2 separate regions of the Homo sapiens genome follow, and region 2 is linked to region 1. The links come from fine-mapping of genetic effects on gene expression. Tissue or cell type: esophagus muscle. Region 1 holds a variant in brackets; the other region holds the start of a gene. All regions are shown on one strand. Distances are from middle to middle.

The links. PIP is the estimated chance that this variant, and not a neighbour inherited with it, causes the effect.
Region 2: PAQR5 starts here. The variant in region 1 is fine-mapped to the expression of PAQR5 in esophagus muscle (GTEx, PIP 0.91).

What each region holds. Positions count from the first base shown.
Region 1 is chr15:69,175,130-69,183,235 of GRCh38, reverse strand. The region is part of intron 1 of GLCE (glucuronic acid epimerase); the gene reads right to left. Among named protein-coding and RNA genes, the nearest start is that of GLCE, 19 kb to the right of the region's middle. The variant TA/A (reference allele first, on the strand shown) is at 3,234.
Region 2 is chr15:69,295,578-69,303,683 of GRCh38, reverse strand. It overlaps PAQR5 (progestin and adipoQ receptor family member 5), which reads right to left and starts at 4,772. Exons shown (of 9, transcript NM_017705.4): 1 at 4,628-4,772. It overlaps PAQR5-DT (PAQR5 divergent transcript), which reads left to right and starts at 4,921. Exons shown (of 3, transcript NR_184010.1): 1 at 4,921-5,206.

The sequences.
Region 1 (8,106 bases):
ATCATTATTTTCATAATGCTTGGGAATCTCATCATCCACACAATCCTTTCCCAATTCTTGCTTGTCAGTTTCTTATTATCAGAAAGGAAGTTCTGCCCTTCAGTAGATCTAGGATCTTCCACTGATCCTTCCCTCAACCCTATTTTATACTCATTCCCATACAGTCAAACCTTAAACCTTCTCAATTTTAATAAATGCAACCCTTCCAAAATGCCATTTTTTGTTTTGTTTTGTTCTGAGACAGGGTCTCACCCTGTCGCCCAGGCTGGAGTGCAGTGGTGCAATCACAGCTCACTGGACTCAAGTGATCCTCCCACCTCAGCCTCCTGAGTAGCTGGGACTACAGGCACGCACCACCACACCCGACTAATTTTTGTATTTTTTTGTAGAGACGGGGTTTCACCATGTTGGCCAGGCTGGTCTCAATCTCCTGACCTCAAGTGATCCACCTGCCTCAGCCTCCCGAAGTGCTAGGATTACACACATGAGGCATGATGCCCAGCCTCGAAATACCATTTTTAAGTATCACACTCTGATACCAGCTCACTACCTCTAATATCCTAACTCCAAAAAATCTGCCAACCCAACAGACCTGTAGTCCACTAATCTGATGACTTCTGCACTTCCTTTTACCTTCCCATGTCCTCAATCCCCTTCTTACCCAAATTAAATCCATATTCAATCATTTACTTCCTTCCTTCCTTTGCATACATGCTTAACTACTTGTCTTCCTTCTGACTATGTCAATCTTGCTTGGCTAGTTGTTACCAATGCAATTTTCTGCCTATTCTATGTTGATACCTACAGAGCTGCATGTGGCTGGATGGACTCTCTCTCTCTCTCTCTCTCTTTCAGCGCAATTTTCTGCCTATTCTGTGTTGATACCTACACAGCTGCATGTGGCTGGATGGACATGCACTCTCTCTCTCTCTCTCTCACACACACACACACACACACACACACACAAATACACGATGTCTGATAAATTGGTTTCTCTTTAAATTCGTGGCCAGGAGCCTCAAATGAGTTTCCTTAATGCTGACTGACAATTATACCTTATTTTCCTGATTCATCCATTCTGCCACTCTCTTACATAACTATTTCAACTTTTTGCTCCTCAATCTTCCATCACCTTCCCTCTCATCCTCACTTTTATCTTATGACCCTGTGTCCTATTTTACTAATAAAATACTAGAAGCAATAAAAGAACTTCTACAAACTCTCAAACCACATCTACCTAACTACGTCTGTGCCCACATATTCTGATTCCTCTTTCATTACTAGCGTGAACTATTTCTGCTCTACCCAAGACCCAACCTTTTTACTTACACACTAGATCCCCATTAACCACCACTACCTCTTCGTCTATCCCATCAAATTTTCCATTTTTTTCTCAGCCTCCTACAAACACGTCAAAACAAAAACAAAAAACAAAAAAACTCTTTGAACATCTCTCTTAAGTTACTATTCTATTTCTCTCCCTCCCTCTTCAGCAAAATTCCTCAGAAAAATGATTCTTTCTGCATGTCTCCAATTTCTCACTTCCCTTTCTCTTGAATCCATTCCAATGAGTCTATTTCCCCACCACTCTATCAAACCTGCTCTTGTCAGAATCACTAATGAATTCCACATTGCAAACTAGAATGACCAATTCAATTACCAGTTCTCTTTACTGGAACTATGAGCAGCATCTGACAAGGGGTTCATTACTCCCTCCTCTCAAAACACTTTCTTCATTGGCTTCCAAGATTCCATGTTCTCCTGGTTTTCCTCTTGCCTCAGTGATTTCTCCTTCTAAGTTTCCTTTGCTAGTTCTTCATTTCCCAAACTTTAAATGTTGTAGTGCTCCAAATCTCTGTCCTGGACCTTCGCCTCTTTATGCTTACTCCCTTAGTGAAGTCATCTGATCTGATTTCTTTAAATAGCATCTATACATAATTCCCAAACTTAAACCTCTAGCCCATTCCTTTCCTTTGAACTCTAGACTCAGATAGTTAGCAGTCATCTCACTTAGAATACCTAAGATATATCTTAAATTTACTTTGTCCAAGATCCAACTTCTCTCCTCCAAAATCTTCCATCATAGTTTTACCCATAACAGCAAATGGGTAACTAGCCTTCTAGGTGCTCAGACCACAAACTTTGTATCACCCTTAACCTCTGTGCCTCCCTCTTTTTTCTCTCCCTGCTTCCCAGTCCCCCAAATCCTGTTGACCTCAAAATGTCAATTACTCACCACCACCACTACTACCATTTTGGTCCAAGCCATCACCTCTCACCTGAATTACTGCAACAGTCTCCTAGGTGGTTTCACTGCTTCTGCCCTTGTTCTCCTTTAGCCTACTCTCAACAGTTGCCAGACTGACTCTTTAAAAGTCCAATCATGTCACTATTCTGTTCCAACTCATCCAATGTCTTTCTATACCACGTATCACTTAGTCTAAAAGCTGAAGTCCTTAAAATGGTCTATAAGACCTTGCTTGACCTGGCAGCACAACCAGCCCATCACCAGTGCCATCATTACCTTTCTGACTTCATCCTATATTACCCAGTCCTTTACTCAACTCCAATGACAAGCTTCTTCAAATGTAAATACCGCAGGCATGCTCCAACCTCAGAGACTTGGCATTTGCTATTCCCTGGGCCTAGAATGATTTGTATTTGTGTCATATCTCCTTCACTGACTGTCTTCATGTTATTTAAAAGTCACCTTATCAGTGAATTTTCCTGGCCATCCTTTAGAGAAGTGTAACTCCTCCCATACTTTATTCCCCCTTCCCTGGTTTATTTTTCCTCTTTACTACTTATCTTCTAACATGCTGTAAACTTACATTTTTTTTAATTCACTCATCTAAAATGTATGTCTTCTCAGGGTAGGGGTAGGGATTTTTGTCTGTTTTGTTCACTGAGGTACTTACAGAGCCTAGAGCAGTGCCTGGCATAAAATGGTCAAATATTTGATAAATGAATAAAATCATAGCCCTCCTTCAAGGATGATGCCAAATTATCCACAGTATTAAGACTATACTAAAAGGGACCACTAAAAAAATCTTTCTCTCAACTTTCTTATTTTATACATCTGGTTAGTTAGTGGTGTTTAATGCAGAATCAGAACTATAGCCAGTTCTCCTTATAACTATACTAATTATTTCCATGAAGATTTTTCTGATCCTTTTTTAATATTTGATCACTCATAACTCTCAAAGCAATAAATACGTTCTTTTGGCACTTGT[TA/A]TGGTATTGGTTTTTGAGACAGAGTCTCACTCTGTCGTCCAGGCTGGAGTGCAGTGGCGCATTCACAGCTCACTGCAACCTCCACTTCCCAGGCTCAAGCAATTCTTGTGCCTCAGCCTCCTGAGTAGCTGGGACTACAGGCATGCACCACCACGCCCAGCTAATTTTTGTATTTTTAGTAGAGACAGGGTTTCGCCATGTTAGCCAGGCTGGTCTTGAACTCCTGACCTCTCAAGTGATCCACCCGCCTTGGCTTCCTGAAGTGCTGGGATTGCAGGCATGAGCCACTGCACACAGCCACTTGTGTTGTTCTTTGTACTGAATTGTTGGTATATCTCTATTATCTCCCCTATAAAACTATATGCTCTTTAAGGCCAGGAGTTACGTTGTCAGTGGTTAGGATGAGAGATATGACTATATAGGGATGGCACAGGGATTTCTGTTGTGATGAAACAGTTCTGTATCTTGACTGTGGTGGTCAAAACTACACATGATAAAACTGCAAACAATTACACACATACAATGAGTGCCTGTAAAACTGGTGAAATCTGAATAAAGTCTTTGGATTGTCCAACATCAATTTCATGGTTTTGATAGTGCACTAGGGTTATATAAGATGTTACCAGCAGGGTTTGAAATTGGATGAAGGGTATATGGTACCTCTCTGCACGAATTTTCCAACTTCCTGTGAATCTATAATTACATACTACAAATTCTTTTAATGTAATATTCTCTTGACAAGAAATAAATACTCAAGCAGTATAAAAGTGTACACAACCAAACCCAACCACAGTCATACCGAGATCTGATTTCCAATCTCCTGGTCCCTTCTTTTAGTCCCTCTTCAGAAGGAACTATTCCCTTTCTTGTGTATCCTTCTAGAAAAGTCTATGCATTTTGAAGCAAAATATGTTTATTAATGTGTGCATATGCATGTGTATTTACACCAACACATACACAACTTATTTACAGCAATATAAGCGGCATACCATAAACACTGCTCTGCAACTTACTTTTTTTTAACCCAATAATGTGTCTTAGAGATTAGCTTATGGAGAAGTGCTCCTTTTTTCTTTTTTTATGACTATATGACATCCCATTGTGTGGCTATATCATCATTTATTTAACCAGACCCCTACTAAGAGTCATATATGTTTTTTGACAATATAATTAATACTATAAAGAGCAAAGATAAATTATTTAAAATTGAATGAAAAAGTATGAATATTTATCATTTTAACATGTAAAGTCAACTTGTCCTCCAAAGAAATTGCACAATTTGTGTTCCTGCCTACAGTATATAACAGTGATTCTAGATATCTTTGCCAGTGTTGTGTATTATTGAGCTTTTTAATCCTTGTCAATCTGATAATCAAAAAATGTTCTCCTGTTTAAATTTGCATTTGAATAATAATAAAAATAAACTTCCATAGAGCACTTACTGTGTGTCAGATATTGTTCTGAGAACTCCACATATATTAACTTATCTAATACTCATAACAGTCCCTTGAGGTAGATGATATTGCTATTATTAGCCACATTTTACTGATGAGAAAACTGAAACACAGGAAGGTTAGGGAACTTGATTACACTGATTGTTAGAGAATATGCAAACCCAAGCAGACTGACTCTAGAGGTTTAAATTTTAAACAACATATTAAGTTTTTTGTTCAGCTTTCCAAAAATATTTTCTTATGCTTAAAGCCATTTGTATATTTTTTGATATTAGCTACCTGGTTTTGTCCTCTGCCCATTTTTCTGTTGGATTTTTGATCTTACTCTTACCGAGCTACAAGATCTCTTTGTGTATTAAGAAAATTAGCCCTTTATGATAAATATGTTATTCCCAAAAAAGGTAAAACAGATACCTACCCTGTGACCTAGTCATCCTATTTAACCAAAAGAAATGAAAATATATGTCCATATAAAGACTCGTACACTAATATTCGTAACAGCTTTATTTGTAAATAAAACTGTAAATAACCCAAATGCTCATCAGCAAATGAATGATAAATTTTGGTATACCCATATAATGGGATATTACTACAAAAAATGAATGAATTATTTATACATGCAACAACAGAGAAGAATCTCAAAATAATTATTTGAGTGAAAGAAGCCAGACTATAAAGAAAAGTACATACTATGTAATTCCATTTATATAAAACTCTAGAAAATACAAAACAATCAATCTGTAGTTACATTAAGTAGATCAATGGTTACTTTGAGAGGGTGGAGTGTGGAGGGGCATGAAGTAAAGATGATAAAGCGGCATGAAGTAAAGATGATAAAGCGGCATGAAGTAAAGATGATAAAGGGGCATGAAGTAAAGATAATAAAGGGGCATGAGGTAAAGATAATAAAGGGGCATGAAGTAAAGATAATAAAGGGGCATGCATGAAGAAACTTCTGGAGATGATGGGTATGGTCACTATTTTGAATGTGGTAATGATTTCACAGGTATATACCTACATCAAAACTTACTAAATTGTGTAATTCACTATATGCCAGTTATACTTCAGTGAAGCTGTTATACTAAGGGACTCATAACATATTGTACTATTGTTTTAAAAATTATCAAAAAATGGTGATATCTCCTGTTTAACTTCTTTTATATTCATCATAAAGAACACAAGCAAGGCCGGGTGCAGTGGCTCACACCAGTAATCTCAGCACTTTGGGAGACCAAGGCAGATGGATCACCTGAAGTCAGGAGTTTGAGACCAGCCTGGTAACATGGCAAAACTCTGTCTCTACTAAAAATACAAAAATTAGCTGGGCGTGGTGAAACCCCGTCTCTACTAAAATACAAAAATTAGCTGGGTGTGGTGGCGCATGCCTATAATCCCAGCTACTCGGAAGGCTGAGGCACAAGAATCGCTTGAACCCAGGAGGCAAAGGTTGCAGAGAGCCGAGATTGCACCATTGCACTCCAGCCTAGGTGACAAAGAGACTGTCTCAAAAAAAAAAAAAAAGCAAATATGAAATGTTCCTGATTCAGGTTTGAAACATTATCCACTTCTTTTTTCAAAGTCATAGTTCAATTTGAGAGTGTCCTGATTCTACTCTAAGTCTCAAGAACCAACTAAAACAACTCTTCCAGTTGTGGTGGACATTGTACAATCAAAACAAAATAGAAATTTAATGCAGAGATTGAGAAACTACAATCATTATCAGTTATTCAATTTCAAATTCTTGAGTACATCAAAATGGCCTAAGTCATTCATTCATTTATTTCACTAAGATACATTTGGAATCTGCTATGTATGAGGCACTGTTAAATGCTAGGAATAAAGTGGCAATAGAATGTCGTGAAGATAAGACAACTTAAGAGCCTACCCTGAATGTCACTGATCCCCTTTATGCTAAGTTAATGTTATAAATATGTACTTAAAGTTATACAAAAATGTTACTTTTTATTTGTATTCTATATTGCAGTGCCATATAGATGTTTGAGGAAAAAAAACAAAAATGGGCCAGGGGTGGTGGCTGACGCATGCCTGTAATCCCAGTACTTTGGGTGGCTGAGGTGGGCAGATCATCTGAGGTCAGGAGTTTGAGACCAGCCTGGCCAACATGGTGAAACCCTGTCTCTACTAAAAATACAAAAATTAGCCAGGTGTGGTATTGCCCACCTGCAGTCCCAGCTACTTGGGAGGCTGAGGCAGGAGAAGCGCTTGAACCCAGGAGGTGGAGGTTGCAGTGAGCCCGAAATCACACCACTGCACTCCAGCCTGGGCAACAGAACAAGACCCTGTCTCAAAAAAAAAAAAAAAAAAAAAAAACAAGGTTCCACTGAAAACTACTAGATCACAAAATTTAACTCCTTTTAGACTTTAATATGTGGTAATGCAAAAACAATCACATCCCATGCCAAATAAAAAGTGGCTCTGAATTATCAATTTTTCATTATTTCAATTATTTGAGAGATATACCATTAGTATATAATGCACATGTAGCTTCTAAAAATGAGTAAGTGAACAGTGTTACATGACAAAGTACAATGTAAGATTTGCCAGCCAGTATACTCACCTCCCTATTTGTGATTTGATGTTTTCCTGCTCAAGGGTTCTAAGGTTATATACTCAGTAAATTCACACATTTCCTGAGTGTCTTCAGAAACTTTATTTGTTTTAATTTAAGTAAAATAACTGGAAAATAGCAATTTACATTGCAGAGATGCCCCCACATGAAGAAGCAGTGAAAGCCTATCACATAACAGAAAGTCATTAGCTTCAGTGAAGAAGGCAAACAGATCTCTGATATGGACCCAAACTTCCCCTGAGCAAAAGCCAATCAAAACAAAATATGACAATGCTACCTTGATTTTAAAACATGCTAAGTCTGGAACACCCACTGGGTATGACAAGTATTTTGTACAGGGAATGAAGAATATAGAAAATGAAGCTGATGACTATAAACTAACTTCATCAACAGCTCAATTAGATGTTGTCACAGACATACTTCTTAAACATGTTAAAATATATTCTATTTTATTCATTAAACTTTTTGGTGTTCATATGAATGTAACAAAGTAAAAAGTACACTACTGAGGTCCAGTAAGTACATTTACTAGAATGTATCTCCTGATTTTCTAAAAAGAAATTTCGTTTTGAAATACACATTTTAAAATTATTTGCCACTTCTGAGGGCTAATGACAAAGACATTGGCATATGCATTGAAAAACAACAAAAGGGAGACTCCAAAATTTAGGAGATGGTGGTATTAAGAATGTGAGGATGATGGAAAAATCTTTTTCTTATTTTTCATTTTTAAAGTGGGTATATTACTATTATTTGTAAATTTTACAATACATCAGATGAAGACTAAAGATCATATTGCTAAAGAAAAAAAGTAGAAACTAAACATGG
Region 2 (8,106 bases), 120 kb before region 1:
CACTCCTTCTCCCACGGCTGCCTGGAGCCTGGCTTTGGACTTCCTTAGTTCTCCAGTGCACTGGAGAATTGATTGACTGACTGATTGATTGATTGATTGATTGGATGTGCTTTTTTTTTTTTTAATTGCACTGGGGAATTTTAAAAGGCTGCCTGAAGAGGGCACTATTTTCACCAAGAGAGAACTCACTAGCAGAGGAATTGGCTGCCTTGGGAGAGCAACCCTGGGAGGTTTTCTTTGAGGATGGAGGTCTGGTGGGGATGACTCCTTCCTGGAACTCACCAATCGCCTCATGTGGCGGCTGTCCATTCAGTCTGGGAGCTGCCCCTTTGGGTAACTCTGGAGGCAGCTGGCCTGAAGGTTCTTGCCAAGGGCCTCTTAAGCACCCCTAGCAACCAAGGTAATTCAAAGTGGGAGACAGAGACCCAAATTTGAATTAACTTGAGTCTAATTAGGAAAAGCTCCAGCTCTGCCTCCAAGAGTCACTCCTCGCCTCTGGGTCTCAGTCTCCCCATCTGTATACTGAGAAATGGTGCATTGGATGTGTTCATCTACTCAGCACGTGTTAACTGAGCACCTACTACACTCTGATCTCTTGGGAGAGACCATGGAACGAGAGAGACAAAAGGCTTTGCCCTCACAGAGCTGCTATTCTAACAGGGAGGACAGATGGCAAACAAGATTAAGGAGTGAAATCTATAGGCCATCAGAAGGGGATGTGAGCCATGGAAAATGAAGCAAAGAAGAAGCAGGGGGACATGGCTGCTAAGGATTAGTCCAGCTTAGAGACTCTGGGTCTAAAGCTCTTACTCTGCTGCATCCTTGTTAGGAGTCAAGAATGGTGGCAGGAAACTGGGCAGGGCCATGCGTGAGTACAGGGACAGCTCTCAGGGGTGGTGGGGATGGTGGGTTTGTTCACGGGCTTGAGCCCCAGTCAGTCTCTCAGCGGCTTCCTCCAGGAAACAGAACTGACTAACCCCAGGTGTGCTGGCCTGTCCTCAAGTCAAAGGCAGACACCTGGGTCTGCTGAGGAGTCCAGGGGTCACACAGGGTTCCTGGCAGGGCCCCAAAAGTCCTGACTGAGGGGTGGATTTCTTCAAAGCAAGGTGGGCAGCATCCTCAGGGCACTGCCAGTGACTCTTCTACATCCCTCACTTTGCCCTGGCCTTCGATGAACAAGACACTGGCCACCTCCAACTACAGGGGCTCTCAGACCCTTCCTTCCCTCCTACTGATCCTCCCCTGCATGGTGGGGTGTCCCCTCCCCTTACATGGGGAGGGAGGGAGAGGAATTTGAAAGTCCCCATTTCTGGCTGGGCATGGTGGATCACACCTGTAATCCCAGCACTTTGGGAGGTAGAGGCAGACAGATCGCTTGAACTCAGGAGTTCGAGAGCAGCCTGGGCAACATAGTGAGACCCCACCTCTACAAAAAATACAAAAATTAGCTGGGCACGGTGGTGCATGCCTATAGTCCCAGCTACTAAGGAGGCTGAGGTGAGGAAGATAGCTCGAGACCGGGAGGCGGAGGTTGCAGTGAGCTGAGATCATGCTACTGCACTGCAGCCTGCTCTGTTGAGACAGAGCAACACCCTGTCTCAAATATATATATCTGACCAACCCGGAGTTGGTCAGTTTTGTTTCCTGGAGGAAGCCGCTGAGAGACAGACTGGGGCTCAAGCCCATGCACAAACCTACCACCCCCACCACCCCTGAGAGCTGTCCCTGTACTCACGCATGGCCCTGCCCAGTTTCCTGCCACCATTCTTGACTCCTAACACTGTGCTAAAAAAAAAAAAAAAAAAAAAAAAAAAAAAAAAAAAATCTCCCCCCATTTCTTATGAATTCACAATTTTTCTCTTCCTGTACGGATCATTTTTGAAAACATGTCTTGTAAACCTTCTGTGTACTCAGGATGAATGAGGGATGCCAAGATGCTGAGAAAGGACTTACCGCCAACCAGGGAGGCCAGGCTAATACACATGAGAAAATAACAATCCGCTCTTACAGTTTGATTTGCAGCCCACAGAGTCCTTTGGAACCACTTACTATCTCCTAAAACCACACAGGGTCTGTTGCTCTCATTTTACAGATGAGGAAATTGAGGCCCAGAAAAGCACCTTCTCTTCCCTCAATACATAGCTGCCCCATGGAGTGGTAAGGAGAGAGAGGAGACAATGAAGATTAAAGTTTCCAAATAATTCCAATTCCAATTCTTACCCCCAGAGGGATGCATAAGAATTCTACGTAAAGGGACAAAGTTGCTCTGCCTCAGTCTAGGGTAGAGCCAAGCTTGGCATGGAACCCACCAGCCTCGGCCTCTCCTTGGCGGGACAAGGGTAAAGTGAAAGTCCTCTGTCTCTCTGGAAAAGCACATGGGGGCTGGGTGCAGTGGCTCACGCCTGCAATCCCAGCACTTTGGGAGGCCAACCCGGGTGGGTCATCTGATGTTAGCAGTTCGAGACCAACCTGGCCAACATGGTGAAACCCTGTCTCTACTAAAAATGCAAAAATTAGCTGTGTTTGGTGGCAGGCGCCTGTAATCCCAGCTACTCGGGAGGCTGAGGCAAGAGAATTGCTTGAACCCGGGAGGCGGAGGTTGCAGTTAGCTGAGATCTCGCCCTTGCACTCTAGCCTGGGTAATAGAGCAAGACTCAGTCAAAAAGAAAGAAGAAAGAAAGAAAGAAAGAAAGAAAGAAAGAAAGAAAGAAAGAAAGAAAGAAAGAAAGAAAGAAGGAAAGAAAGAGAGAGAGAGAGAGAGAGAGAGAAAGGAAGGAAGGAAGGAAGGAAGAAAGAAAGAAAGAAAGAAAGAAAGAAAGAAAGAAAGAAAGAAAGAAAGAAAACGAACTAAAGGAAGGAAGGAAGGAAGGAAGGAAAGAAGGAAAGAAAGAAAGAAAGAGAGAGAGAGAGGGAGGGAGGAAGGAAGAGAAAGAATGAAAGAAAGAAAGAAAGAAAGAAAGAAAGAAAGAAAGAAAGAAAGAGAGAGAGAGAGGGAGGGAGGAAGGAAGAGAAAGAATGAAAGAAAGAAAGAAAAGAAAGAAAGAAAGAAAGAAAGAAAGAAAGAAAGAAAGAAAGAAAGAAAGAAAGAAAGAAGGAAAGAAAGAAAGAAAGAGAAAGAAAGAAAAGCATACGGGATTAAGGATGTACTCTTGGTGTAAGGGGAAAATGTTGCCCCACGTGGGTAAGGGTGCCAAGGGATCTCAGTGGTGGGGCTGGACACCTTTCTGATCCAACTTTTCAGAGTGCCCTTTCTGCTTGCCAAGGGCAGAGATAAGGCAGTTGGAAAAGAAGCTTTGCTGTTGCAGGCTAATCATTCCATTCTCGCAGAGCACCTTCCGTGTGCCAGGTACTATTGCTACGGCAGGGAACAAAGCAGGTCCCTGCAGGGAACAAAGCAGGTCCCTGCCCTCCTGCAGTTCTGGGAGCTTAGCAAGGCTCTGGCTGGCTCTTGGAGGACCTTACTGACTGGAGTTTGTGTCTGCTTGGAGGTGCCCTCTCCCCTGAACCTCTTTCACAGGCAGAACCTAGGGGGGTGGGGAGTGGGGTAAAAGAAACAAACCTCTGCTGAGTCAAGGGCACTGCAAGAATGCAGAAGCGACCATGCAGCTCTGGAAGGATGCGGTGGGAAACCCGCCACTCAGTGGTGGAGAAAAGCCCACCAGTTTCTCCAGCAAATGGCTGAGCTTTGTTGGGCCTCCTTGTCTTCTCATCTGCCCATGTGTTAATATCTACTCGCCATTGGTTTGTTAGGTTCAAATGAAATCAGGGATGTGTCCCTTTTTGGCTGCTAGCTCTTCTCAGATCCCCTGACCTCTCCCCATCTCTTCTCTATGGCTCTGCGTGGGAAGGGGCAGTTGTCACCCCCGACTCCCACTAAGCTGAGCCCTCCTCCCAACCTAAGCGGGAGGAAGCCGGTTCTGCTCACGGATAAGAGTTACCGGGCTCCTGAGTTCTTGTTCTGCTGGGCCGGGGTCCACCCCCTCTCCTGGGCTCATCCGACTAGGACTTGGGAAGTGCTAGGGGAGCCAGGAGATGCCCAGCTGGGGGCTGTGGCCGGGGGGAGGCCAATGACAGAGCAGGGGGAACTCCCTGTAGCTGGGCACCCACTTCAACAGGGCCGGGACGACCCCCGCAGGCAGTGGGCCGCCCCTCACCCACACGGTCCTGCTCAGCCCAGGCTCACATCTGGGCTCAGGAGGCGGGAAGCACAGGTGTAAAGAAATCGCCAACTGTGCAGCCCCAATCCAAGGGTTTTATTAAAGTGGGGGCGGCGGGAGGGGGGCGGTGGAGGAAGGATAAGCGGCGCAAACGCCCTGGAGAGTGAGAGAAAAGGTGCGAGAAGGCAACAGCTCCCCTCACCGCCCTCGATTGCAGCAGAGAGCCTTCTGCACGGCGGCGGCCGCCCCACCTTCACACCGGCCCCGCGTGCGGTGAAAGTGGCCGAGCCGCGCCGCCGCCGGATCAGGGCCGCCCCGGCACAAACTTTCCCAGACCCGCCCTCGGAGCGGCCACCCAGGCTCAACGGGCTCCACGGGCGCAGGGCGGCTGGGGCTGCCGCGGAGGGCGGGTGCGCGTGGACCGGGAGGTGGGGAGGCGGCGCGCGGCGGGGAGTCCCGCCCCGGGTTACCTGGGTTCCAAGGGTCTCGGGAGTCCAGTGGACAGGGCGCGGGGACAGCACAGGCAGGCCGGAGACCAGACACTCCTCCCGGGCTGCGGCGACCCCGGACTCGCGGGCCCTGCACCTGGCCCTGCGGGTCGCCGCGCCTACCCATGCCGGTCCCCGCCCGTCCCCTCCCGCGCGGGGCGGGGCGGCCCCGGGGGAGGAGCCGAGGGCCGTGGGCACCACCCCCTGAGCCAGGCCTGCGCCTCATCACGTGCCACCGACCCTGGGCTCTGTGACTTCCAAAGACTCGCCACCCCATTCCACAGCCTGAGGTGCCACCAAAGCCATAAGCCCAGGGGAGTCTCTCACACCCCATTCTCCTAGGGCCCATGTACCCCACGCCCACCTCCACCCCAGGAGCCGAAGGCCGGCAGGGAGCCTGGAGAGCCTCCTTGATGGGAGAACTGCGGAGCTTGCCCCTCGGAAAAGTGCATGGGGTGGAGAACAGGGAAGGAGAAAAAAACAACAACTGGGTACTCGCAGCCCCACCGCGGTGTCCGCTTCGCCGGTGGGAGAGGATCCTCGCCGCCCTGAATCCTTGAAGTGAGTTCCACCCCTGTCTCTTGGAGTGCTCAGGGTGGCGGGCCCTTTGCCAGCCCTCACCCTTTCCCCAGGGATCCTGTCCCAGGTCACAGGCTCCTAGACTGGAAGGCGCTGGGCCTGGACCTCTGCCACTCAGTGGACACAGCTATAAGAGATGAAGGGACACAGAGGACAAAGAAGAAACATTTGGCTTCAGGGAACCAGACTCTGTGTCTCCTCCCAGGTGCTGAAGGAACAGGTTGCAGCTACCTGGTGCCCCCACCCCGACCCTGCCAGAGAAAGGTTGGAACATCCACACCTGTGGACCGAAGTCCCCCACCAGGCTCTTTCCTCCCACCCTTCAGCCCCAGGCTCTCTGAGCTCCTGCTCCTCCCTGCCTTGCCTTGTTTGCTGAGGGCACACACAGTGGAGAGAGCACAGGACTGGGAGTCCAGAGACCTGGGCTCTAGTCTACTCTGTGACTCGGGTCAAGTCTCTGGCCCTTTGTGGGCCCAAGTTGCCCCATTTGCAGTGAATAGGTTGCAGTCAATTATCTCCGGCCATTTTTACGGATCCTGAACCGTGGTCTTGGGCACCTTGCTTTATTAGGCTTTTTGGTGGCTGTGCATCTTGTAAGGGTGTGTATGCATGTGCGTGTGTGTGTGCGTGCGACATGCGCTTGTCCTCTCAGACCCAAGTTCTTAAAGGGAAAGAGACTGGGGCCTACACAGAGGCAGGCATGTATATTCCACAGACCAGAGTTTGACAAGAATGACTGGACACAAGAGTGGAGCCCAGTCCCAGCTCTATGCTGAATTCAGAGTAGCCTTGGACAAGACCCTCACCATCTACAAAATGGAGATTAATAATCCCTGCTTTGCCTTTCCAAGGCTAGTCGGGGGACTCAGTGAGATATTAGATATGAAGCTCTTTGAAGGGGAATAGCACAGGGATGTGTGCTTTTGATGTCTGGGCCAGTGATGGGTTTGGGGGAAGAATAGGGTGTGAAGCATTCTCTGGGAGGCAAAGGCTGGCACTGGACTGATTGGCCACCCTGCCAAAGCTGCAGCATGCACAGCACAGGCAGGCACCCCACCACCAGCAGCCAAGGTGAGCAGAGATGCCTGGTGCCCCACCTGGATTCCTGCCTGCTGTAGGTATCTGTGTGTGCACCTTGAAGAAACTAAAGAGGGAAGATAAAGAGGCTCCCAACCTAAATGGAGGTGGTCAGTGGATTACTGATGAATCGATCTGCATATCTTGGCCAAAATCACCCTCCTCTGCTCTTAGGGAGTTTAAAGTCTAACTGAATGATTGAACATGAACCCTTTGGAGAATGATGTGGAGCCAGGAGAGGGGATTGTGGATGGTGAGCACACAGGATGATCAGAGGAGGGGGAAGGGCAGGGAGGGGCCGGGGAGGGGGGTACTTAGACCACATGGAGATGCATTTAGAGTATTGTGTTCAACACTCCTATTTCATAGTGATGAAATGGAGGCCCAGAGAGGGAAAGTGACCTGCCCAAGGTCACACAGTCACAAGAAGTCAGTAGCAGAGCTAGAACTTGGACCCAGGACTTCAGGAATCTATGCTGGATTTGAGCCTCCTGTGCAGCCGAGGGAGACCTGAAGTGTGGGAAGGACTGGGATACGTACCAGTGGGCAGGAAGAAAGAGTGAGGCAAAGTGCAGAGGTGGGAACTTTGTACAGCAAGGGAAAGGAGCTGGAATCACAGGCAGGATCTGGAAGGAGGGAGCTGCCCAGACCTGGAAAGCCAGGCTGAGCACTGCAGACCACAGAGGGTTTCGAGCTGACACCAGTTGGGAAGATACAGGCGTGCGAGGGGCACACGCCCAAATGACCCAGTGAGACAGCAGGTGACATGACAGCAAGGCAGCAAGGAGACGGGGAAGAGCAGCTCCAGGAGTCAGGCAACCTCCAATCAAATGGCCTTGAGCAAGTTGTCTCTCTTCTCTGACCCTCAGTTTCTTTTTTGTGGAGTGAGAGATAATCATCTTTTTTTCCTTTCAGGGTTATTGTAGTGACCACAGAATGCATTTGGAAGTGCTCTGTAAACTGCAGAGTGCTAAGTAAATTTAATATTTGGAGTTGTGTTTTATTTTCCAAAGGGCTCAGTAAACATTTGTGGAACTGACTGATATTGGATTGGACACTCTCCTCATGGCAATGGGCAGAGGGACCACAAACGGAGGGGGGCAGGGATTGGGGTGGTCAGAGGGAGTCCTGGCAAGGGTGTGAAGGAAGGAGAGCTTCAGTCTTAAATGTGAGTCTCCCTCTGACATCTTTACAACATAACTCAAAAAGCCTTTTTGGGGGGAAACAGTCCTACCCCAATCCATGTGACTCAAAATGCCCCATCTCTTCCTTTGCCTGTGTGTTCAAGGGGCGCCATATCAGATGTCACTATTCTATGTGTTCTTCACCCATCCCCACTGGCCATCTACTCCTCAGGCACTCACCAGCTCCTCCTGGGTGGGCCCAGACGTTATATTTGTTTACAAGGCCTTGTTGGATAGCAGAAACGGTACTACAGAAACCATCGCCCTTAGTTAATATGGCAAGATTCAGGTCCCTCACATGTGTTCTCAGCCCCCTGGCACCCAACTCTACCCCAATCCATAAGTCCGCTCACGCCTCCCCTCTCCTTGGCAATGGAGTCACCAGGGCAGGGCTTACTGCCCCACTTGGCAGATGAGAAAACGGAGGCTAGGAGAGAGGCGCTGCCTGGCAGCGCGAAACCTAGAACAGCCTCACCCACACCGTCAGAGTTGCCCTGCTGATGAGGCCATTATCTCATCAGGGCTGGAAGTATTTGCCTCATTTGACAGAGGAGGAAATGGGCACTAAGGGCAAGGACATGCTTTACGGGAACTTCTTGCAGAGCTTTCTTTTCTGCCACT